7 linked regions of the Homo sapiens genome follow. The protein of the gene in region 1 purifies or fractionates together with the protein of each later gene. This does not show direct contact. Each region holds a gene or a part of one and is shown in the gene's direction. Other genes may lie near its edges. The genes, in order: SLC38A6, CNNM1, AP3S1, TF, NPLOC4, MTCH2 and UBAC2.

The links.
Region 2: the proteins of SLC38A6 (region 1) and CNNM1 purify together in Homo sapiens (affinity purification with mass spectrometry; one large-scale study listed by BioGRID and IntAct). This does not show direct contact.
Region 3: the proteins of SLC38A6 (region 1) and AP3S1 purify together in Homo sapiens (affinity purification with mass spectrometry; one large-scale study listed by BioGRID and IntAct). This does not show direct contact.
Region 4: the proteins of SLC38A6 (region 1) and TF purify together in Homo sapiens (affinity purification with mass spectrometry; 3 studies listed by BioGRID and IntAct, with this or other methods). This does not show direct contact.
Region 5: the proteins of SLC38A6 (region 1) and NPLOC4 purify together in Homo sapiens (affinity purification with mass spectrometry; 2 studies listed by BioGRID and IntAct, with this or other methods). This does not show direct contact.
Region 6: the proteins of SLC38A6 (region 1) and MTCH2 purify together in Homo sapiens (affinity purification with mass spectrometry, with the first as the bait; one large-scale study listed by BioGRID). This does not show direct contact.
Region 7: the proteins of SLC38A6 (region 1) and UBAC2 purify together in Homo sapiens (affinity purification with mass spectrometry; one large-scale study listed by BioGRID and IntAct). This does not show direct contact.

The regions. Positions count from the first base shown.
Region 1 is NC_000014.9:61,047,245-61,050,187, forward strand, and holds part of SLC38A6 (solute carrier family 38 member 6), read left to right. Parts: intron 1-906; coding exon of another isoform or gene 907-911; exon of another isoform or gene 912-1,003; coding exon of another isoform or gene 1,004-1,035; exon of another isoform or gene 1,036-1,053; intron 1,054-2,071; exon of another isoform or gene 2,072-2,159; intron 2,160-2,744; coding exon of another isoform or gene 2,745-2,755; exon of another isoform or gene 2,756-2,943. UniProt on the Homo sapiens protein: Amino acid transporter with an apparent selectivity for L-glutamine and L-glutamate. May facilitate glutamine uptake in excitatory neurons. The transport mechanism remains to be elucidated.
Region 2 is NC_000010.11:99,381,356-99,384,855, forward strand, and holds part of CNNM1 (metal transporter CNNM1), read left to right. Parts: intron 1-3,500. UniProt on the Homo sapiens protein: Probable metal transporter.
Region 3 is NC_000005.10:115,900,935-115,904,434, forward strand, and holds part of AP3S1 (AP-3 complex subunit sigma-1), read left to right. Parts: intron 1-1,950; coding exon 1,951-2,058; intron 2,059-3,500. UniProt on the Homo sapiens protein: Part of the AP-3 complex, an adaptor-related complex which is not clathrin-associated. The complex is associated with the Golgi region as well as more peripheral structures.
Region 4 is NC_000003.12:133,773,893-133,777,392, forward strand, and holds part of TF (serotransferrin isoform 1 precursor), read left to right. Parts: intron 1-1,540; coding exon 1,541-1,725; intron 1,726-3,156; coding exon 3,157-3,346; intron 3,347-3,500. UniProt on the Homo sapiens protein: Transferrins are iron binding transport proteins which can bind two Fe(3+) ions in association with the binding of an anion, usually bicarbonate.
Region 5 is NC_000017.11:81,630,613-81,634,112, reverse strand, and holds part of NPLOC4 (nuclear protein localization protein 4 homolog), read left to right. Parts: intron 1-3,500. UniProt on the Homo sapiens protein: The ternary complex containing UFD1, VCP and NPLOC4 binds ubiquitinated proteins and is necessary for the export of misfolded proteins from the ER to the cytoplasm, where they are degraded by the proteasome.
Region 6 is NC_000011.10:47,629,060-47,632,559, reverse strand, and holds part of MTCH2 (mitochondrial carrier homolog 2), read left to right. Parts: intron 1-848; coding exon 849-906; intron 907-1,472; coding exon 1,473-1,524; intron 1,525-1,945; coding exon 1,946-2,005; intron 2,006-3,500. UniProt on the Homo sapiens protein: Protein insertase that mediates insertion of transmembrane proteins into the mitochondrial outer membrane. Catalyzes insertion of proteins with alpha-helical transmembrane regions, such as signal-anchored, tail-anchored and multi-pass membrane proteins.
Region 7 is NC_000013.11:99,340,354-99,343,853, forward strand, and holds part of UBAC2 (ubiquitin-associated domain-containing protein 2 isoform 1 precursor), read left to right. Parts: coding exon 1-212; intron 213-3,500. UniProt on the Homo sapiens protein: Restricts trafficking of FAF2 from the endoplasmic reticulum to lipid droplets.

The DNA.
Region 1 (2,943 bases):
GCTGGCTGAGAAATTGTTAGATGAATCACCATTAGGTGCTTAGAAACTGTATTAAATTGTAGCTGTATTAGATTGAAAGGGATGTGGAGGAAGGATGGAAGCTAATACATTTATTGAGCTAACATTTAAGACAGTGTCAGGTATTTTATATATACTCCCTAACTTAATCCTTATAACAATTCTGCAAGCTCAGTGTAGGTTCATTTAGGTTGAGTAATTAGACCAGATACTTGAAGCCAGTTAATAGTGGAATTGGGATTTGAATCTAGTTTTGTCTCTCTCCAAAGCCAATGCCTTTATTACTGTGTTGTCTACTCAGAAATTGTGCTATAGAAGCCAGATTTCCTTTATTCCAAGTTTTTGTTAAGGTGATCTTTTAGAAAAATATGACTCACTTAAGCTCTAGGCATCTATCTATGTATGTATCTATGTATAATCTATCTATCTAACATTGCTGCTTGAACACAAAGGCTAAAGGTTTTCATCATGTAGATGGCATGTTTCCTAGACAGGGATTTGTCTAATATCAAGTAAAACCATTATGTTGTCTCTGATTTAATCTCTTCTCCACTAATGCAAATTCTTCAGAGTATGCAAATTTTATATAATAGAGAAATACACATCTAAGAAAATCACATGGTAGGTAGGTATATGATTGATTAATAGGTAGGTGGGTAGGCAGATAGATGGGTGGATGAATAGATGATAGATTAGATAGATAGATAGATAGATACATACATACATACATACATACATACATACATACATACATACATACATACATAAATAGAATAAATGATACAAAAGTAGTAAGTTCTTCTCCAAAGACAGAAGAGGCAGATATTGATTTGCTCTTGGATTGTGAATCATAACCAAGAAAAACCTTTGATCATATCTTTCTACCAGGATAACAGGAGCTTTGTGTCATAGGAAGAAATTGCTGGTTGAACCTGAGATCTTATAAGGGCTAGCCTCAACTTAAGGCTTCCAATTCATTTTACAGATGAACAACTAAAGCCCAGAGAGGTGAAGTGACCTGTCACAGAATTAAAGGCAGGTTTCCTGAATACTAATCCAGTGTTATTTCTGCTACTTTGTGATAATCTTTGTAAACTTAATACCCTGTTTGACAATGTGTATTAAACAGGACAGCCTCCTGACTTCAATGGCATATATAACTTGCAGAGATCACCATTAGGCCCTTTCTGAGATTTGTAGAGATTTGTCTGAATCCAGGGAAGCATGCACCACTCTATCCCTCACATATGTTATGGCTCAGTTAAGAACACAGAGTGACTGGCTCAGAAGAAGTGTTTTCATCCTGGGAAAGTAGAAAGTGGACATGTGACATCTATTTTGAATTTGTAATAAATCTAGTTCTTCAAGATTCAGGAGCTGCTTTGGATCCTTTTATCCAGAGCTCCTAAAGTTTAATTTCTAAATTTGTCAGATTAAAGGGACTTATAGGTATGTACCTAGATTAATGATACTTGCTCTGATTACAGCTGTGAAAGGAAGAGAAAAGGGTTCCTCTGGTGAGCCAGGCCAGTGCCCAAATGTTGCATAATAACCAGGCCATTTAAAAAGTCTATGAGGTTGTTAAGCAAGAAGTGTTAATAGCTCATTTTATGATTCAGAAAATGGAAATAAAATAGTTTGCCATATTTCTCCAAAGACTCACAAGTATCTCACAGATTTGGAAATAGAATCCAGATTTCCTGGCTCTTCTTAGTCTCCTACTTAGTCCAAATCCCACATTGTGTAAAGTATGTTTTTGATACTTTGGACAATTCATTTCTCTCCTGTTTCCATTATCACTAGTCTAGTTCAGATTCTCTTTACCTCTCAGTGATTGTAACAGTAGCTGTTATGCCTGTTTGGGGTCTCTTTTTCTTCCAATCCGTACTCCTGCTTTAGTTCAGATCATAATACACTGTTCTTTGTAAGTCATTATTGCATTTCTGTGGCCTACCAGGTTGAGGCCACATCTCATGCAGAACTGTATTACTAGGTCTGAAATGCATTTCCAGCCCTATCACCCACACACTGTTTCATCCACTGTAGTACTTACTAGACCACTTATTTTCTCAGATGCACATTCCCTTTGCTTTGTTTGTGCTGCTCCTTGCTTCTAGAGAATCTCTTCCCCCACATCTTTGAACATCAGCACACATTCATTGACTCATGTAATGTTCTCAGTAACCCTATAGTTTAGTATATGGCCATCCCCATTTTAAAGATGTAGGAACTGAGAGACTCAGTGTAAGTTGCTAGTTACTGGTGGGGTTTGAACATGTTCTATGTCATCACAGTTTAGAATCTCCATAGCTCTTGTTTAGAACTCTCTGGCCACTTACATGTGTATATCACACTTTCTATCATAGCTATGTGTATTCATCTCATCTCTTCTTAAAGTTCCCTGAGAACAGAGGTATGTTTCCTTTTGTTTTTGGTTTCCCTCAAAGTATCCTTTCTGAAACACTCTCAAATTAAAAGGCACCATTCTATTTTAAGTACAAACTGATATTTTCCCACAAAACACTGATATCCAGTGTTTCTGAGCACCCTCAGTCTTCTTTCCCCTTGTCTGGGTTGAGGTTAGGGAGACATTGTGAGAATGCAAGAACACTGGAGCAAAGCTTGGTCGGCATGTATAAATCCTATTGCTGACCACCACACACTGGCCTACTAAGTAAGACATTTCCCTAACACTTCTCTTTTTTTCATAAAACATGAATCCACAGATGAAACGTAACATGCACCAAGCTCTGAGATTCTAGAAAACGTTGTGGTATTGAGGAAAAGATGCTGTCTCTAGCACCAAAAAGAAGTAGGTGTATGGCACTGCCCCTTTGTGTTATGTGATCTTAGGCAAATCATTTAACACTTTTGGACCTACCTGCGTATTAATATTGTTATCATGGGGACTAAATTCAACAACAC
Region 2 (3,500 bases), on another chromosome or scaffold:
GTGAGCCGAGGCCATTGCACTCCACCTGAGCGGCAAGAGTGAGACTCTGTCTTCAAAAAAAAAAAAAAAAGGAAAAAAAAGAGTGTTATTCAAAAACCTCTTTAGGCCAGGCGCGGTGGCTCACACCTGTAATCCCAGCACTTTGGGAGGCTGAGGCAGGCAGATCACTTGAGGTCAGGAGTTCAAGACCACTCTGGCCAACATGGCGAAACCCCATCTCTACTAAAAATAAAAAAATTACCCAGTCATGGTGGCAGGCACCTGTAATCCCAGCTACTCGGGAGGCTGAGGCAGGAGAATTGCTTGAACCCAGGAGGCGGAGGTTGCGGTGAGCCGAGATCGGCGCCACTGCACTCCAGCCTGGGCGACAAGAGCGAAACTCCGTCTCAAAAAAAAAAACCAAAAAACAAAAAAAAAACTTTGATTAAAATGGGTAGTTCTCCAAAAAGGAATTCTGTGAGTTCAAGCTCTTTTTTTTAACACAAGTGTCTTTTTTGTTTTGATTTTCTCTTTTCTTTTTTTTTTAATATAAGATTCTGCCTTAGATTAACTTTGAAAATTACCTCCTCCTGATTGATTAGACTGTGTTAGGGACGTTATTTAGGCCACTCATTTATCTACTTCCCTCACCTGTCTCTCCCCATCTTTCCTTCTGTTGTTATTGTGTTTTTTAACATGAGGGTTTTGGGGGAAGCTAAAGAGAAGACTGCAAGATGAGTGTTTTCACAGGGCGAAGCCCCTGTGGTTGGCTGCTGGAAGGTTTCTCAAGGGCTTTTTATATCCAACAGACTGAAGGTCCAGAATTAAGTCCAGGAGTAATTGAACTTCAAGATAAGTTACAAAATGAGATAGAAAGGTGCATCTAATAGTTATCTGGGAAAGGTGTTAAACAAAGCCATGATTAATGGTAGTTAATAAGTTATGAAGGTACCAAAGAATTCTTATGAAGTAAGTTTTTTGAAATGTGTTCTGTGTCATCATTAAGCTAAGACTACTTGGCAGATGTCTTACAGTCTGGACTACGTAACCTTGACCAAGATTCCTCATCACCCTAGATTGCAGCATTGTGTCTTCAGGGATGAATAAACCACTTGAAAGTGAAAACAACATCATACCATGATAGGAGGCCAGGTGCAGTGGCTCACACCTGTAATCCCACCACTTTGGGAGGCTGAGACAGGAGAATCACTTGAGGCCAGGAGTGTGAGACCAGCCTGGGCAACAAAGTGAGACCCCCATCTCTATAAAAATAAATTTTTAAATTAGCCAGGCATGGTGGCATGCACTTGTAGTCCCAGCTACTTGGGAGGCTGAGGCAGGAAGATTGCTTAAACCCAGGAGTTCAAGGTTACAGTGAGCTGTGATCATGCCACTGCACTCCAGCCTGCACAGCAGAGTGAGACCCTGTCTCTAAAATAAAATGACAGGAGACATCACATTAGCCTAAAGGTTAACTTCTGGACACCTTGGCTGCTAAGTCAAAAAGTCCAGAAAGCCACCCTTGCTTTTCACTACTTTCAGAATAAACAGACCTCCGCTTCCTTTGTAGCTTAGTGGGTGATTGGATTCTAAACTGGCCACTCTATAAGAGAAGACAATTTGAACTAAAGCTGTTGCTAATAAATGGTTATATCTACTGCAATGAAGAGGAAACAAAAACATGGAGTCTGTTGAAAAGTGGCTTGATTCCCTCAGTCAACTAATTGATAAGTATTTGTTAAGCATTAACAATGGTTCTGGGTGCCATGAGCTATACTACAGAAATATAAATCTAATAAAAATATATCCTCTGCCTTATAAGTAGATTAAGACCAGTTAGAGAGAGGAAGCTTAAGGTAAGTTAAATAATAGTGACCAATGCAGGGTACTATCTAATTCATTACAAAATTATGTGGAATTTTTTTTTGTTTTTTGACGGAGTCTCACTCTGTCCCCCAGGCTGGAGTGCAGTGGCGTGATCTTCTACCTCACTGAGTTCAACTCAGTGAACTCACTGCAACCTCCGCCTCCTGAGTTCAAGCGATTCTCCTGCCTCAGCCTCCTGAGTAGTCAGGATTACAGGCATGCGCCACCACGCCTGGCTAATTTTTGTATTTTTAGTAGAGACAAGGTTTCACCATGTTGGTCAGGCTGATCTCGAACTCCTGACCTTGTGATCCGCCCGCCTCGGCCTCCCAAAGTGCTGGGATTACAGGTGTGAGCCACTATCTGGAATTTTTTAAGCACTAATTGGCTGGAGAATGTACTTTAGGAGTTTGGAAAGAACAAGAGGAGAATTAAGGCAATGCCATGCAAAGGGACACCCTTAAACAGGTATGGAAGGCAAGTAGACATGGCGCATTCGAGGGACTGGGTAGAGAGAGAAGCTGGGTGGGACCAGTGGTTCTGTCCTGGTGAGTAGTGGGAGTGCTGTTGGCCCTGCGAGGCCAGGTCATCGAAACTGGGCACAGCTGTTTAGGCCGTCCACTAAACCTTCACCATCCAGTACAGCAGCCAGTAGCCATGTATAAATACAGCCATTTAGTTACATGTGGCTGTTGAATGCATGAAGTGTGTCTCTTTCCAACTGATGTGCTATAAGTGCAAAATACACATTGTATTTCAAGACCAGTGCGAAAAAGAATGTAAAATTCCTCACTAATCACTTTAACTAATCACATGATGATGTGAAATTATTTTGGATATATTGGGTTAAATGAAATATGTTATTAAAATTAACTTGTTTTTACTTTTTAAAATGTGACTACTAGAAAACTTTGAATTACCGACGGGACTCACGTTACATTTCTCTTCAACAGTATTACGCTAGATTAAAATAAGTTGTCATGAGTTGTTGAACAAGGGGAAGGAACTGACAAGAAGTGATACCCGAACCTAGAAATGCCTCTGGGAGAGGCAGAGCAGAGTTGCTTCCCTGGATACATTGGCACCTTGTCAACAATTTCTTTTAAGGCAACACATTGACATGGCAGGAGTTCATGATTTAAAAAAAAATTTTTTTTAAAAAGAGAGCTGTGTGAAAGAAAGCAAGGCTGTTAAGGCTGTGAGTCACATAGAGGATTTAGCCATTGGGTGGTACCTTTCCTTTTATATAAACACCCACCAACAGTGCAGACCCTCTCCAGCCCCTCCCCCTCCCCACCCTCACTGCCATACACTGCCGTGCTTCTTCCCACTAGTGTGGCCGTCTGAATCTTCTCTTTAGCATCACTGACAAGTGGTGGCTTAACATCTGTGTGAATGCCTCCAATGATGAGGAACTCGGTACCTCACGAGGAAGTGTGTCCCATTCACTCAGTATTGTTACCAAAAATACTTTCTTCCCGTCCTTTCCTCCCTGACAATGCTTAAAAAGAGGGTTAGAGTTCCTGGATCCTTGATTCCAGGTAACAAGAGGGGCTTATCATTGTTTTTTAAAAACAAAAAGAGGCCGGGTGCAGTGGCTAACACCTGTAATCCCAGCACTTTGGGAGGCTGAGGAGGGTGATGTCACCTGAGGT
Region 3 (3,500 bases), on another chromosome or scaffold:
GCTTGCTTCTCTGACAGAGATCAGTGAGAGATCTCATTATAAAAATATGTGTCTAATAATTAATGTTGATTCACTGTTTTAAATTTTTATATTTTTGTTTGTTTGCTCTTACCAACACAGTTTCATTTATCACTGTCATATGTATATCAGGCACCAGTCTCTTTTATGGTTTTCCTAACTTAATTTCTCATTCTTTCCTTCCTCTAACTTTCAATTCTTTATTTTCTTGCAGAACTGCGAAAATTAATGTATATAATATGTTCTCATTTGTGTAAATTAGATATGCATATACACACGTATAACAAGTATGTGCACAGCAAGTTTTCTAGGATACCTAAGATATAGCTAGCTGAGTAGCTTTGGATAAAGGGACCTAAAAACGGATGCAGAGTGTGGTAGAGACTATTGTTGTTCATACATAAGTTTCTGTATGAACTTTTAGTCATTTGCCTATATTCTTTTTTTTTTTTTTTTTTTTTAAGTTACGGTAGTTTTCAAAACACTGTCATGTCTGGTTTGGTTTGGTTGGCTAGGAAGATTAATTTATATAAATTTGTCTTCAGAATTTGTGCATGAGGTGTCCATGCTTCCAAAATGAAAAATAGTAAATAATGATGACTTTTTTTTTTTTTTTAATTGAGGCAGGGTCTCACTCTGTTGCCCATGCTAGAGTGCAGTAGTGTGATTTCAGCTCACTGCACCCTCCACTTCCCGGGCTCAGGCAGTCCTCCTGGGTCAGCCTCCCGAGTAGCTGGAAGTACAGACGTGAGGCACTATGCCTGGCTAATTGTCTGCATTTTTTGTAAAGGCAGGGTTTTGCCATATTGCCAGTGATCTGTCCACCTTGTCCTCCCAAAGTGTTGGGATTACAGGTGTGAGCCACCATACCCAGCCTCCAGGGATATTTTTTAAATTATGAATAAATTTGCGTGAAATCTTACAAAGAAATTTAAATTGAGTAATACATATTTAACTCCTAAAAAGAGTTTGTTGAAAAAAAAATTACCGTATAATACCTAGTGGTTCTATGCTAAGCACTTACATAAATTATTTATTTAATTGTTATGGTAATCCTATGAGGTGCCTATATTATTTCTGTCTCTATTTCGTAAATAAGGTAACAGACTCAGAGAGCTGAAGTAACTGCTCAAGGGCTACAAGTAATAAGTGGTAGAGTCTGTATTCATACTTATCTAATTTTGGAGTCTCCATTTCTAACCTTACCACATTATTTTAAAAAAATTATAGCAGAATAGATTCTTCTGTGAAATGTAATTCAGTTCTGAATTGTTGATTTTTTGATCCAATAATACCTTATGAAAAGACAGAAGTTATATTTTTACTCCCCAATGGAAGACATCATTTTTAGTCATTGTAAGATGTATTTATTAGAAGAAATCTGAATATTACATGTGTAGAGGATTTGGGGGTAAAAACACTATTAAAGTACCCACAATTTAAAAAATTCTACCTTTTTCCAATCTAGAGCCTGTTAGAAGTACTGTACTACATTGCTTCATTAAGTACCATGAGTGTAAAATAATAACCTAATTATTGTTGGCTAAGAATCTGGCATAAAAGGCTCTTATAAATCATATTTTAGTATTAAACTTCACATAATAATAATAATAATGGTAGTTAATATTTACTAGTCATTTACTTTGTTTTGAGTACTGCATTGGATTACCTTGCTTATTCCTTTCAACAGTCCTATGAAGGTAGTACTATTGTTTTTGTTTTATAGCCCATTAAGCTCAGACTTAAGGAGGTTATATAACTGCCTAGGGCTTCACAGTAGTGATGAAAGTGGATTATGAGCCCTTACTCCAAGTTGTTTTTACCACTCATACTTTTAACATAGACAAAGTGGTATTTGAAACAAAAAGTGAATCATGAAACTTCTTTTTAGTGAATTTTCTTTATGGGTATATATTCTTTTATTCCCTTTAGGTTCACAATATTCTTGCAGAAATGGTGATGGGGGGAATGGTATTGGAGACAAATATGAATGAGATTGTTACACAAATTGATGCACAAAATAAGCTGGAAAAATCTGAGGTAAGAATGGAAAATGCTGTAGTTAAGAAGGTTCTAAGCATGATGACAGATTACGCATGATTTGTAGTTTTCACTGTTTGTCCTTCAGTATCACCCTTTAGGTTCAGCCGTTATGCTTATTCAGTTTTTAAAAAATGGAATATACACGTAGTATGCTAAAGGTTCTGTGACTGTTCTCTACCCAACAGCTTTGTGTATTCTTCTTTTAGCCACAGTCATAGCTGCCTTGGGTAATAAGCACAATTCCAAATCTTATTGCCTAAAAGAATTATCTGAATAATGGAATCTAATATTTGCTTTGTAAAACTTCAGTCGGTAATTATCAAGGAAATCTTAGAACTAATATTTTAAAGATATATAAATTTTGTGTTACAAAACTACTTCTGGAAAGGGAAAGGACAGGAAATGGAATTCTTACAGGGAAGTAAGTAATGTTTCAAGTTATTAATAAATGCAAAATAAATATTTTGAATGTTTGAGTTCACATTCAAAAAAGAAATTCAATACCTTAATCTTTTAATTCTAAATCTTTCCCTAAGATTTCACTGACAAGTTAGTTAAGTCACATATTTTAGACATTAGTACATATATATCCATGGTCTTTATTGCATTCTATAAGATCGGTTTGTTATACTTAGCTAACTTTCTGCTGTTAGATTCAACCTTAGATGGGATAAATGAGGAACAGCCAGCACTTTAGCATTGTATAAAACCCTACTTCAGAATTGTAGTGACTCTTCCCTCAAGCACTAGTCTGAATATCAGTAGCAGGTGCTGTAGCTGAGCCACCTGGGTTCACATTATTTTGGTTGTTTATTACCCTAGCAGAGGTTTAGAAAGATCAGTAGTTTTATCATTTGAGTTCAGGAGTTCGAGACTAGCCTGGCCAACATGGTGAAACCCCATCTCTACTAAAAAAATAAAAATAAAAAATAAATAAATTAGCTGGGCACGTAGAGCGCACCTGTAATCCCAGCTACTCGGGAGGCTGAGGCACAAGAATCACTTGAACCCCGGAGGTGGAGGTTGCAGTGAGCCGAGATCACATCACTGCACTCCTGGGCAACAGAGTAAAACTTCATCTCAAAAAAAAAAAGAAAGATCAATAATTTTGATATCTCATTCACCACCCAACTTGTTTGAGGATACTCTTACATTTGGTATTTGCAGTCATAACTCAGATTGGAAAAAACAGACTTTATTTTTATAATTATTAGTGTTAAGCTCAGATGTTTCGTTGATTTAAAGTAAATATTACTTTGAAAGCATCAAGGTTTTAAAAATACACTGGCATTAATTTACAACAGGTGAGTTCTGAAAAATTTTACCTTGTTGGCATTTTAAAGGATCAGTTTAACTCAATTCAATTCTGTGTCCATTTTAATTGAAGAAAACACAGGGTGAAGAATAAATCTCAAATCTAGAAACAGTTGAAGCTTATA
Region 4 (3,500 bases), on another chromosome or scaffold:
GAAACACCAGGCACACACCTGCCCCCAGTCTCGCCTGCACTCTCCTTTCCTCCCGCAGAGAGGCATTCCTTTCTCCTCCTCTCATCCTACACACACTATAAGAGACAACTGAAATCTTGCCTCCTCCAGCCAGCTTCTTAATTCATTTGTTCTCAAAGCCCTGGTTTGAGCTCACACAGCATCTAGAGTGTTTTACAAAATATAAAATATTATTATCCCTGCCCTGAATTTTTTGTTTTGGTATGTGTGTTATTTTCCCCTCCAATAAGATTGTGCCTTGGAGAGGGCTGAGAACATAGTATCATAGATAAATGAATAAAATAACATAAAATAAAATAAAAATACATATACCCTTTGAACTAACTATTCCACTTCTATGTAAGCACAATTATATGCCAGTAACACTCATTTTAACGCTACTTTAGTGGCAAAAAATTGTAAACACCTCAGATGCCTATTAAAAGAGGAATGGTTTAAAGATACTATTATAGCCACACTATGAAATATAATACAGTAGTTAAGAAGAACGAGCTTGATTTGTATGTACTGACAAGAAGAATCTATAAGGTATGTAAACAGTTGAAAAAAAAGCTACAGAGTTTTACATTTGTCAAGATCTAACACTAAACAAAATTAGAAACATGTGAAATCCATATACACACGTAGAAAAATACATATAATGAGCCGTGGATGGAAACTCGCAAATGTGATATTAAAGACTAGCACTATAAGACTGAGTGAGATTTGGAGAGTATAGGAAAGGAGGCTTTTAGTTAATATAGAGAGATATTCAAAAATTTATGAGTGTGATCTCATGTATTAGTTATTCGGTTAAAGAAACAAAATTAAATGAAAAATACATTTTTAAAAAGGTTGCAATTCTGAATTATGGGAGAGAAATAAAAATTAGCAAAACATATTTGCAAAGTGGCTCAGGAGGAAGGAGCTGAAACCCTAAGAATGGGTGAGTTTTTTTTTTTTTTCAGAGACAATACAGAAAAGAAGAGGCAAAGGGGCCGAGATGGGATACAGACCTGTATCACACAGGTGTGTGCACATTCTCATTTAGAACTGGAACAAGGGAGTCAGATTTAAAATTCTGGTGCAGATTCCAAAGGTGTTCTCTGAGGAAAAGTTCTTTTGTTTGGAGATGCCATGTGTTACAGCACAGAAATTGATCAACCTGGCTTAGAGCGTCACATTCTTCCTCTGTTGGAGCAAGAGGTACAGAAGGAATTGGAATTTAGTGGAATTGAAGATCTTTTTGAACAGCATCTGCAGAATGTAGTTCATTCTCACCTGGCTGGGTAGGGAAGGTTGGAAGGGGATGGTCAATAATCATTCCTGGTCACTGTGAGTCTGGCATCACCTTGTAGACCACATGGGTGTCTCTTCCTGTCCACATCACTGTAACCCCAGTGTGGGCACTTCTGCTGGCGAGAAGGCCCAGGTTCTCTACACACCACTGAGTCAGTTCCATCTCCCCAGCGGGGCACCTTGACCAAAGCCATCAGCTGAACCACCTTCTTCCTGTCCCTAGGAAAAAACCCTGATCCATGGGCTAAGAATCTGAATGAAAAAGACTATGAGTTGCTGTGCCTTGATGGTACCAGGAAACCTGTGGAGGAGTATGCGAACTGCCACCTGGCCAGAGCCCCGAATCACGCTGTGGTCACACGGAAAGATAAGGAAGCTTGCGTCCACAAGATATTACGTCAACAGCAGGTATGGACCAGCCAGGTCCTCCCACCTTTTCTTCCTAGATGGCCATAGGCTATTCGGGGGGAGTTTACAACAAAGTGCAGCCATGACTCCAGCACTTTCTTTTTGAAAACTAGAATTCCATGCATTGTGCATTTCATGCCATGCATTGTGGACTAGAGTATCAGGGTTCAAATCACAGCTCCACAGCTTCCTAGTTGTGCCATCTTGGGTATGTTACATAACCTCTCTATGCCTCAGCTTCCTCATATATAAAATTGTAATAATAATATTTTTACCTACTTCTCAGTTAACATGAGTATTAAGTGAAGACATGCACCCAAACGGCATAGGAAAATTCCATTTCCTATAGGACGTGCTCAAAATATGTTAGCTGTGTAATTATGGAACTAGACCTCTCAGGCCCAGCTCTGCTTCTAGCTCCTGGTCACTGGTGATTAGATCTGATCCATGTACTCTTGGGACTAGGAATCTGCCTTTCTGCTCCCCCTAACCTTGTTCAGGGGTACCCTCATTTCCCCTACTCCTGTCCTTCCCGAAAATGAAGAAGACAGCTCCTGTTTCCCAGCGCTTGTTGATACGAGTCATGAAGAGTGGATTTCTGTTCCTCTTGCCTAGGCAGACTGAGCACTGTTCTCAACAGTCTGAAAAACACAGGACCCTTGCCCTCGGAGAGCCTGCCCTCTGGGGGAACAACCACTCAGGGCCAGCCTTGTTGAAGACAGGGGCTGCCTGAGTATTCTAATCCTAAAGGCCCCTCCACACACACACATCACCTTCCTTTTGGGCATAGCTGCCTGCTGTTGATTCACCATTACCTTTTTTTAAAAAAAATAAGAGTATATTTGAAGTCCTTTTAAGGTACATGACAATAATAAGCATTTAACATACATTTCCTAGCTGCTATATGGAAAGTTCAACATTTTGCAGTCATCATTTCACTTACAACCTTTGGAGATCTGGAGAAGCTGAGTGGCTTGCCCAAGAAAGGATTCAAAATGCAGTCAAACATGAACTTTTAAGAACTACCTCTGCCACTCCTCTGGGAGGGTTCACATTTAACATCTTCTTTGACAATAACATCTGAAGGGACATGTTATTGTCCTCTCATTTCCTATAAGCAGCCCCCAGTGAAGGGCAATGAAGTGGGGAAGAGAGGTCAGAGTAGGCAGGCATGGGTGTGGGTGGGAGGGACTTATCAGAGGAAGGTGGGACCAGGGACCCTATAGATGATTTTGGGGGCATCATGAAAGCATGCAGCTGGGGCCCTAAGTGGATAAATGGCAGATAAAGGAGGTGGAAAATTCCCAAGACATACTCCGTAGCTTCCCTTTTTCCCCAGGGCTGGTTCAGAGCTTTCAGACTCTTCTCATCCATGTGTTCCCAGCTGCTAAAGACCACAAGGTCCTCACGGACTTTCTGTTCACTTGACAGCACCTATTTGGAAGCAACGTAACTGACTGCTCGGGCAACTTTTGTTTGTTCCGGTCGGAAACCAAGGACCTTCTGTTCAGAGATGACACAGTATGTTTGGCCAAACTTCATGACAGAAACACATATGAAAAATACTTAGGAGAAGAATATGTCAAGGCTGTTGGTAACCTGAGAAAATGCTCCACCTCATGTGAGTAGGAGGAACAGCATGGGGAAGTGGCAACCAAACATGGTGGTGAGTGCTGGGATGGTGGGTGGGTACAGGAGGGGTAGGCTGTGGCCCTTGGGATAGGACAACATGGACAAAATGAAATGGTGAGTGAACAATCTAAGCCCGGCATGTA
Region 5 (3,500 bases), on another chromosome or scaffold:
ATTGCCTGAGCTCAGGAGTTTGAGACCAGCCTGGGCAACACGGTGAAACCCCACGTCTACTAAAAAAAAAAAATACAAAAAATTAACCGGGCGTGGTGGCGTGCACCTGTAGTCCCAGCCACTCAGGAGGCTGAGGCAGAAAAGTTAGAACCCGGGAGGCGGAGATTGCAGTGAGCCGAGATCGCACCACTGCACTCCAGCCTGGGTGACAGAGTGAGACTCTTAAAAAAAAAAAAAAAATTAGCTGGGCGCGGTGGCGGGCGCCTATAATCCCAGCTACTTGGGAGGCTTGAGGCAAGAGAATTGCTTGAACTCGGCAGGCAAAGGTTGCAGTGAACCGAGGTCGCGCCATCGCACTCCCACTCTGGGTGACAGAGCAAGACTCTGTCTTGGGGGGAGAAAAGAGTTTCTGTGGATTTAACTGTATCTCACCAGTTCTTCAACTTCCCCAAGAAGCGTTCTAGTCTTATTTTCTTATAAATAGGGAAACTTAAGTTACCAAGAGGCTGTGTGTTCATGTTGTCAGGTCTGTCTCTTCCTGTGTATTTCATTTTGTAGTCTGTGTCAGAGGCTAGGCCAGAACTTTCCATCGTACAAATTATGTTTGTCTCTTGTTAAATACTGGAGTTGGCCTTGGAAACCTGGACTCCCATCTTCTGTGGTAGAGGATCAAGTAGGATGACTTCTTCACCTTAGAATTCTGCAGCCTGAACCATTTAGCTCTGTAAAGAATGGCGGTAACATGCTCTTGTTCCAGAGTCATCGTTTGAAGGAACATTCACATGTTCCCCTTCATTAGAACAGAGCTTTCCTTTTTAAGATAGCTAAGTGTTGGCAGACAGATTTTAGAAACAAATAAGTGGAAGTATTTACCTAATGCTATATATTGTGAAAACGTTTTTCTGGGGTATTGAATCTAGAATGAAGTATACTAGACGTTAGAAGTATAAAGAATTGTATTTCTTTTCTTTTTTTTTTTTTTTTTGAGACGGAGTCTTGCTCTGTCACCCAGGCTGGAGTGCAGTGGCGCGATCTGCTCACCACAAGCTCTGCCTCCTGGGTTCACGCCATTCTCCTACCTCAGCCTCCCAAGTAGCTGGGACTACAGGCGCCCTCCACCACGCCTGGCTAATGTTTTGTATTTTTAGTAGAGATGGGGTTTCACCGTGTTAGCCAGGATGGTCTCAATCTCCTGACTTAAAAGTTGAGAACATATTGGGTGGAGCCTTTTCTGCCAAGTGAAAGTTATGGGAAAATGCAGGACAGGGTTATCCTATTTTAGGAAAATCTAGATTAGGCTTAGTTACTTTACTAAAAGCGGACAAATCCCAGTAGACTGAGCCTTTATGGTGTTTTGTCCTGTATCAGTGGAAATCTTTTTTAGACAATGGCTTGTGACAGTTTTCATCTGCATAATGGTTGAAGAGGATGTTTAATGTAACACTCGTGGTAACCTCACAGAAAATAGTTATAGAATTTATGAAAAAGGAAATAAGGGAGGCCGGGTGTGGTGGTGCACACCTGTAATCCCAGCACTTTGGGAGGCCCAGGTGGGTGGATAACTTGAGGTCAGGAGTTCGAGACCAGCCTGGCCAACGTGGTGAAATCCCATCTCTACTAAAAATACTAAAAATTAGCCAGGCGTGGTGGCAGGCACTTGTAATCCCAGATACTCAGGAGGCTGAGACAGGAGAATCACTTGAACCGGGGAGGCAGAGGTTGCAGTGAGCCGAGATCACGCCATTGCACTCCAGCCTGGGCAACAAGAGCTGAAAAAAAAAAAAGAAATAAAAAAGGAAATAAGGGAATTGAAATGTTTCACTATAAAAAATCAGCTAGGCCAGGGTTGGTGGCTCATGCCTATAATCCCAGCACTTTAGGAGGCTGAGGCAGGTGGATCACCTGAGGTAGGCGTTTAAGACCAGATTGACTAACATGTTGAAACCCCGTCTCTACTAAAAATACAAAAATTAGCTGGGCTTGGTGGTGCACGCCTGTAATCCCAGCTGCTCAGGAGGCTGAGACAGGAGAATCGCCTGAACCTGGGAGGCGGAGGTTGCAGTGAGTGGAGGTTGCAGTGAGCCGAGATTGCGCCACTGCACTCCACCCTGGGCAACGGAAAAAGACTGTCTCAAAAAAAAGAAAATTAGCTGGGTATGGTGGTGGGCGCCTGTGATTCCAGCTACTCAGGAGGCTGAGGCAGGAGAATCACTTGAACTCAAGAGGCAGAGGTTGCAGTGAGCCAAGATTGCGCCATTGTACTCCAGCCTGGGCCACAAGATTGAAACTTCATCTCGGGGAAAAAAAAAATGAGCTAAATACAAGAGATGGTAATGCAGGAAATGAGAGAGAAAGAAGCTATAGAATGCACCATCAGTCTTTGCTGAGAGGAGAAGCTAGGACACTTATGCGCATGTTCCTGTCTGCCTTCCTTCCCGTCCCGCGGATGGTTGGAGCAGGTCTTTGTTTGCTGCAGAGCATGCCATGTCATCCTCCTTGTCTAAAGCAGGGGCCTGTGCTGTTGGCCAGGCATGATAACTCACCTTCACGATGGCTTTCATCAGCATAAACATCAAGTTGTCTTAGAAAGTAATGCCCTTTGTCCAGTAGTCTTCCAGATCTGCCAACCTTTTTAGGCTTGCCGTGGGGGAAAAAAAAAAAAAAAAAAAAAAAAAATATATATATATATATGTACACTTTAATATGCATATATGCACACACACGTTATTAAATTAGGATGGGGTCTCGCTGTGTTGGCCAGGCTGATCTCGAATTCCTAGGCTAAAGAGATCTTCCTGCCTTGGTCTCCTGAAGTGCACAGATTATAGGTGTGAGCCACTGTGCCCAGCTGAAAATATTTTTTCAAAACCCTACTAAATTTTACCATTAAAGACCTTTATTGCTTTTAATTTTAATTTCTTTTTTAAGTTTAAATTTTTACTTTTTTTTTGAGACGAAGTCTTGCTCTTCGTCACGCAATGGCACGATCTTGGCTCACTGCAACCTCTGCCTCCTGGGTTCAAGCGATTCTCCTGCCTCAGCCTCCCGGGTAGCTGGGATTACAGGTGCCCGCCACCACGCCCAGCTAATTTTTGTATTTTTAGTAGAGACGGGGTTTCACCATGTTGGCCAGGCTGGTCTCGAACTCCTGACCTCAGGTGATCTGCCCGCATTGGCCTCCCAAAGTGCTGGGATTACAGGCAGGAGCCACTGTGCCCAGCCTAATCTCTTTTTTTGAGACAGGGTCTCACTTTGTCACCAATGCTGGAGTGCAGTGGCACCATCTTGGCTCACTGTAGCCTCGACCTCCCTGGTTTAAGTGATCCTCGTGCCTCAGCTCCCCAAGTAGCTGAGACCATAGGCGTACGCCACCATGCCTGGCTAACTTGTATTTTTAGTAGAGATGGGGTTTCCCCATGTTGCCCACTGGTCTTGAACTTCTGAGCTCAAGTGATCCACCGCCTTGGCCTCCCAAAGTGCTACAATTACAGACGTGAGCC
Region 6 (3,500 bases), on another chromosome or scaffold:
GGTGAAACCGTCTCTACTAAAAAATACAAAGAAAAAAAATTAGCCGGGCATGATGGCGGGTGCCTGTAGTCCCAGCTACTTGGGAGGCTGAGGCAGGAGAATGGCGTGAACCCGGGAGGCGGAGCTTGCAGTGAACCGAGTTCGCGCCACTGCACTCCAGCGTGGGTGACAGAGCAAGACTGTCCTAAAAAAAAAAAAAAAATGCAAAAGCCAATGGTAGACCTGCTTACATTTGCAATCCCAGAACCTAAATGCAAAGATTATAATTTAATTTTCTTTATTACTTCCTTACAGAGCCCTAGAGTAGAAAGATAAACTAGGAAAAACACAGCAGCTCTAAGATACTGCACAGTTACTGGGTTGTAGTCACAAAACAAAATTGTTCTCTTCTCCCAAAAATGTGAGTAGAGACTAAATGGAGCCTGTCATTTATCTAGAATGATGTCAGACTCTCCAAAATCACTTACCAATAAGAGAGCAACTTAATAATCTCAATAAAGGCCTCATATTTTTTATTTCAGCTTAATGACTTTGTTGGTGACCTTTCCTGTTTCTTTATTTTTTTCTCTTACCTGTAAAATTGAGAAAACAACAGAAGCCTGCTTTGCAGAGAAATTTTGAGAAGTAACTATAATAGAACATTGAGATCCATGAGTGAAAAGTATGATAAAATGACAATGAATGAGATCTTTCACATCCCATTCAAACTCTTCTTGACTCCAGCCAGGGCAGGAGGGCTGTGTCATTCACTTTCTTATCCTATACCACGATATCCACCCACATTCCTTCTCACAGGCATTTGAGTGTCATTTGTTTAGATTTCAGAAGTGTGTGTTGATTGTTTCTAGACAACTCGAGAGATGATCGCTCGTTCTGCTGCTACCCTCATCACACATCCCTTCCATGGTATGTTTGCAGTTGACAACTGACCTTTCTTTTATAACCTGATCTCTCCTGACCACTTAGATAGGTTGACGTGGGAGTTGACTAAAATGCCTTGCCTGCATGTTTTTGTTTGCTTGCTTGTTTTGGCTTTTATCCAATTTATCCAGATAGCAAAATGTCTTTAGGTGGAAAATCTTTTTTTTTCCCAGGGCTATCAAAATCTATCTTAACATAGTTTTTTTTTGTTTGTTTGTTTTTTGTTTTTGAGACGGAGTTTCACTCTTGTTGCCCAGGCTGGAGTGCAATGGCACAATCTTGGCTCACTGCAACCTCAGCCTTCCGGGTTCAAGCAGTACTCCTGTCTCAGCCTCCTAAGGAGCTGGGATTACAGGTGCATGCCACCACGCCTGGATAATTTTTGTATTTTTAGTAGAGATGGGGCTTCATCATATTGGTCAGGCTAGTCTTGAACTCCTGACCTCAGGTGATCCGCCCACCTCGGCCTCTCAAAGTGCTGGGATTACAGGTGTGAGCCACCGCACCTGGCCTTAACATAGTTGTAAACATCTTTTCTCTATATTCCACAGTGATCACTCTGAGATCTATGGTACAGTTCATTGGCAGAGAATCCAAGTACTGGTAAGTATTTTTGTTTTCACATACTCAAGGAGATCTTTTGAAGCCAAAGTACTAGAATAATACTACTTTGTATTTTTATGATACCCTTACAATTTGTAGAACAAATTCGTATCTGATGTCATTTGATCTGCACAAAAAACAATAAAATGGGAGAAAATATACCCAGGCAGGTTTAGTAGCCTACGTAGGATTTCAGAGTAAGTTGCAGAGCCCCTGACTCCATATGACTATACCCCTAGGTAGTTAATATTTTCACTTCTATCTCCAAATTTAGCTATCTTTGCAGAGTGAGAGAGTGCTAGAAAAGTGTGAGGGAAGGAGGTCGTGGATTTGACCTTGTCCAATGTGATAATTGAAATTATTTTGTTTATAGCTCCAAAAGAATCTTAATATATTTTACCTTTTCTTCTTGTGTACGTAGTGGACTTTGTGATTCCATAATAACCATCTATCGGGAAGAGGGCATTCTAGGATTTTTCGCGTGAGTAAATGTTGATTAGTGTGTAATTTTTGCATGAGTGGGAAACGTTTTCTGAAAGTAAGAATAGTGAGTCTTTGTTTAATCCTTGGGGAAAACGTACTCCCTGGGCTTACCTCACGTTACATTCTATTTAGGCCCCTTATTTTTTTTTCTTTTTTCTCTGCAGAAAGGCATATTTAGGCCCCATATGACTAGAATTATCTTGTAAAGATCCCAAACCTTTACTTCTAGATACTTAAAACATTTGAGGCCGGGCGTGGTGGCTCACGCCTGTAATCCCAGCACTTTGAGAGGCCAAGGCGGTTGGATCACCTGAGGTCAGGAGTTCAAGACCAGCCTGGCCAACATGGTAAAACCCCACCTCTAGGTGTGGTGGTGTGTGCCTGTAATCCCAGCTACTCGGGAGGCTGAGGCAGGAGAATTGCATGAACCCGGGAGGTGGAAGTTGCAGTGAGCTGAGATTGCACCACTGTACTCCAGCCCGGGTGACAGAGTGAGACTCCGTCTCAAAAAAATAATAATAATTAATAAATAAATAAGGAATTTCTTTTTTTAACAAAGGACTTAATTCCAAGTTTCTACCCTTGTAGTAAACTCCCAATTCTATATAGATAATAAAATGAGAAAAATTAAATGTTGAAAAATGGGGAAATCATCTTAACTTGTATTTTCCTTACCGTAAAAGAGTAAGTTTTTGCAAGGCTTGAATTTACTTTGGAAGAACTTAGACTACTACCCTCATTCTTCTATGAGGAAAAATTTTGCATCATTACCGAAATGGTGTTTTTTGTTTTTTTTTTTTTAATTTTCAGAGTATCTCCCCATACGGATTTTGAATATCATAAATACCCTGTGAGATAGGCAGGACAGCTATAATTAGTATCACTTTAGAGATTAAAAAACATTGATGCTCTGAGAGTTTCATCTGCTGCCTGTCACATCGCTGCTGAGTGCTGGAGCTGGCATTTGAAGCTGGTCTTCAATCCGTGGGGAAATGCTCTTCCCACTATTCCATGCTGCCTCACCTAGGTCACCCAGACCCTAGAAATGTGGTTTTTGATGCCTCTCATCTGTATCTGTACTTGGGACCATTCTTGCTTTGTAATTTTTCTCGTCTTTTGCTCTGCCAAATATGAATATCAGATAGCTTAGCAAAATCATTTTTTTAAGCTAGTCAAAGCAAAACAATATTTAAGTCTCTTCTGCAAAGCACCTCGCAAATCTTTTGCCTCCCTGCTTACAGTTATGAATAGTAAGGTGAGCCACTGAGGGTATAGCCGACCTGCATTTTAAACATAGGAACAAAAGTCACTGGAGATCAGCTTCAAGTACAGCTGTGTTAACGAGAATGAACTAGGTATGCGGGCTGGATTCTGGTGTTTGATTCCTTTTTTACTTCCCTAGAATGTTTTGTGACCTCTAATTATTTGACAAACATTTGTACTGAAGAGCCTGTCATGTTACTGATCACATTTTTTGGTTCTTATTTTTATTG
Region 7 (3,500 bases), on another chromosome or scaffold:
AGGTGCATCAGGTGCTCTGCATCCCCAGCTGGATGGCAAAATTCTTTTCTTGGACACTTGAACCCATCTTCTCTTCTTCAGAACCCACCAGCGAAGCCAGAATTGGGATGGGAGCCACGCTGGACATCCAGAGACAGCAGAGAATGGAGCTGCTGGACCGGCAGCTGATGTTCTCTCAGTTTGCACAAGGGAGGCGACAGAGACAGCAGCAGGTAAAAGTGATAATAATCACTAAAAATTTAGAAATTCTCAGTGGCCCAAGCAAATCTTTCCTCTGTGATTGCATGTGAGATAGAGACTACATTTTATTCCAGTGCCTTGCAAGTGGATTTTGACATTTCCAAAGAGATTGTAGGTCTCTGTTAGTGGCCATTCTTAGTTTTTTAAAAAGGTAAAAAATAAATTGCAGCTGAAAGATTGGTCAAACTGGACATTCTTGTTCCACCTATATTAGATAAGCATGACTTCTTAGAGAAACACCAACCTAGTTAACAAGATGTGCTATTTATCTGTTTTTATAATCTTGTAAAAGCCACAGTGTCTTCCTGTTAAAATGCTAATCATATGCTATGGAGTGAAGAACAAATGTAAAATTTCTTGATTTTCCTTGGTTGAAATGAAGAGAATATGAAGGCAAGAAGATTTTCAGTGGAACAACCAAGGAGTAGATAAAAAAAAATGCTGTGTTTTCTCAACCTTGCTATCAATAATCAGAAATTATTGCACATTTGTCTACAAATTCTGCATCCAAACAATCTGATACTACATTTGTCTTCCATGGGCAGTGAGAGAAGGAGGGTTAGTGCACATCAGGCTAAAACCTCAGGCCTGATCTTTCTTGGACACTTCTGTGAGCCAGCCCACAGGGCTCCCCATTTTTCGCCTCCACCTTCTTTACCCCTGGGGTAGTTGTAAACCGTACAGTTACCTCTGCCATCTCTCTGTCTTCCACTAGCATTGGATGCAAGAAGTAGGTCTGCAGATCTCACGATGGTTTGGAGAAGTGAAATCAGGTTTGAGGTCCTTAGAGTCCCATTGGAGATGCAGGTCCCAGAGTTTATATCAGGGGGGGGGAGGAAGGGGGCAGCTTATTAGGGGCAGAGTCTACAAGAGAAATAGAGAAGCAAAAGTTGTTTCTTAAAGATGTGCTTGAATTTGAGTGACTCTGGAACATGCCATAAAGATGCCCATGGTGTATTTAAAGCTGGAGGATGGACATCTCTGTCTTGGAAATGTGGAAGCTACATATATATATAGGTGATGGAGTCACCTCTGTAGGGATGAGAGCTGAGAGCCGAAAGCAAAGAAGTAGTAAGTTCTGTAAGAGAAGAGCTACATCCAAGATGAACACAGGCTACAGATGAAGCCTCGTATTTAGCAGGAGGTAAATCCTTCAAGGAAACTGAGAGAAGAGCGAAAGGTATGAGAAATCAGAATGATCAAGGTCAGAAAAACTGAGTAGTGATTGAGTATAAAGGTAGAGGCACAGAGCTTATGAGGGAGAGAAAGAAGTAGGGGATGGTTCTGATGTTTCTGGCCTAGATAATCTTAGATAGATGACTGATAGTTCCATTTCACCAATATCAAAAGAGCAGATTTGGGGGAAATATGTTGTCTGAGATACCTTTGGAATCCTGGGAGGAGATTCTCCATTGGAGAGCTTTGAATTTGTCCTCATAAGCAAACCAGAGAAGTTGCATTTCTCAGATTGGCCTCCCCAGGAAGATTTTTATACAAAGAGTTTATGAGAGAACACCGTCAGCATCAGTATCTATGGGGGCGGGCTGGCGAAGGCAGCAAGATGGGACAGAGGGAGCAGCTGCAGTTCCAGCAAAAGCCTCGCTGGTCTTATGGAGCACAGTGAAGCTGGGAGAGCCCTTCTGAGTTGTCCCAAAATGGGGACCAGTCCTGTTGGGTAAGTCCCATGCGTACGACCTCTTTGAACCTTAATTACCTCCTTAAAGTTCCTACCTTTAAATACAGTCACATCGTAGGGTTAGGGCTTCAGCGTGTGAATTTGGGGCAGGGGCAAGGGGTGGGAGACAGTGTGTTCCATAACACTGCAGAGTGGAAAGGGCCCAGCATAGTCTCGGCGCTGAGTGACTGTTCTGCTTGCAGACGGTAGTTATCAGGCACACACAGTCTCTGTGGATGCCAGGTTGGATGCTCCATAGTGGCAGGAGATAGGTCGGCCTAGGTGAGGGGGACCCACACATTCCTCTGTGCTACCACCATGGCCATCCATTCGTGTGCCAGCGCTGGGTTATCTGGTGATGGAGCCACAGTCATTCTGTCCACCTTCCATTTGGTGCCTTTTCTGTGGTGGATGCCCGTGGTGGGCACGACCTGCAAGACACTTGATGCTGTTCCTTTAGCTGGATCCTCCTTGTTCCCTCCCTTCCAGTCCCCTGACCGACCAACCAGGTGATCTGCCATGCCCAGCAGATCCACACGTGTAATTGCCTCAGGCCACTTCTCTTCACACAGAGTTGATGACCAAATGTGCTGCCCAGGCTCTGCCCATAGGGGGTTCCCCTGATCGCTGTCTTTCAAGATTGAGCCATCATGCAGCCGTTTCTTTCAGCTGCCACTCATGTCCTGAGCCAGCCTGTCCATTTGGCTGTTTTCCCCTCTGTCACTTGGTCATGAGGGGCCCACCAGCTGTGGTAGTCGGTGTTAGCTGGGAAGAGGCTGTGGTGCAGCAGAGGTGGCTGCCAGGGTGGTCTGGCATGCCTGCTTCTGCAGCTCACCCATGCCCTGCAGCCCCACCTATGCTGAGCCCAGATGCCCGTGTCCATCTGATGATGGGTTTCTGTCGGCCCACCTGGCTTGGTAACTTGGTGGGTCTCCACTGCTGACCACATGCTCACTTTGTGGCCTACAGACAGGCACTTCATGGTGCAGCAGCAGTTTATGCAAGTGGGATTCTTGGCTGTTTGCGCACGCCCTCGCTCCAGGATTCTACGGACCCCCATTGTGGTTCTCCTTTCCTGCCTTGCTGTAAACTCCGCACGGTGTCTTTCCCCCCAGATACTTGGAACATCACGGGATCTGCCAGGTTGTACCCAGGCCTCAGGGAATGAGACAGACCCAAACCCCTGCCCTGCTGGAGCGTGCATTCCCACCAGGCGCCTGTGAAGTGGCACAGGCCTTTATGGCTGTCTACACTGCTGTCAGACTCCTCCACTTTCATAGGATGGTCTCACTAACAGATCTGAAGTCCAGAGCAGGACACCAGCCCCTGGGCTCTTGCTGGGCTTTTACGTTGAGTGGTCTGCTGGGCAGCACAGACCAGACTCTTGATTTTTTCCTAAGCTTCCTAAGTTCTCTTCTAGGGTCCGCACATGGGTACACCCAAACCTGAGCACTTAGCCTCCTGCTGAACTTCTTCACTCAGCTGTGTCTCAGTTTTCTTCACATAAGTATGATAAATCACCACGTAGAGAACTCTTTTGTTAAACCACCACTGGAAATTATCTGCCGTATTTGTGTGCATGCAC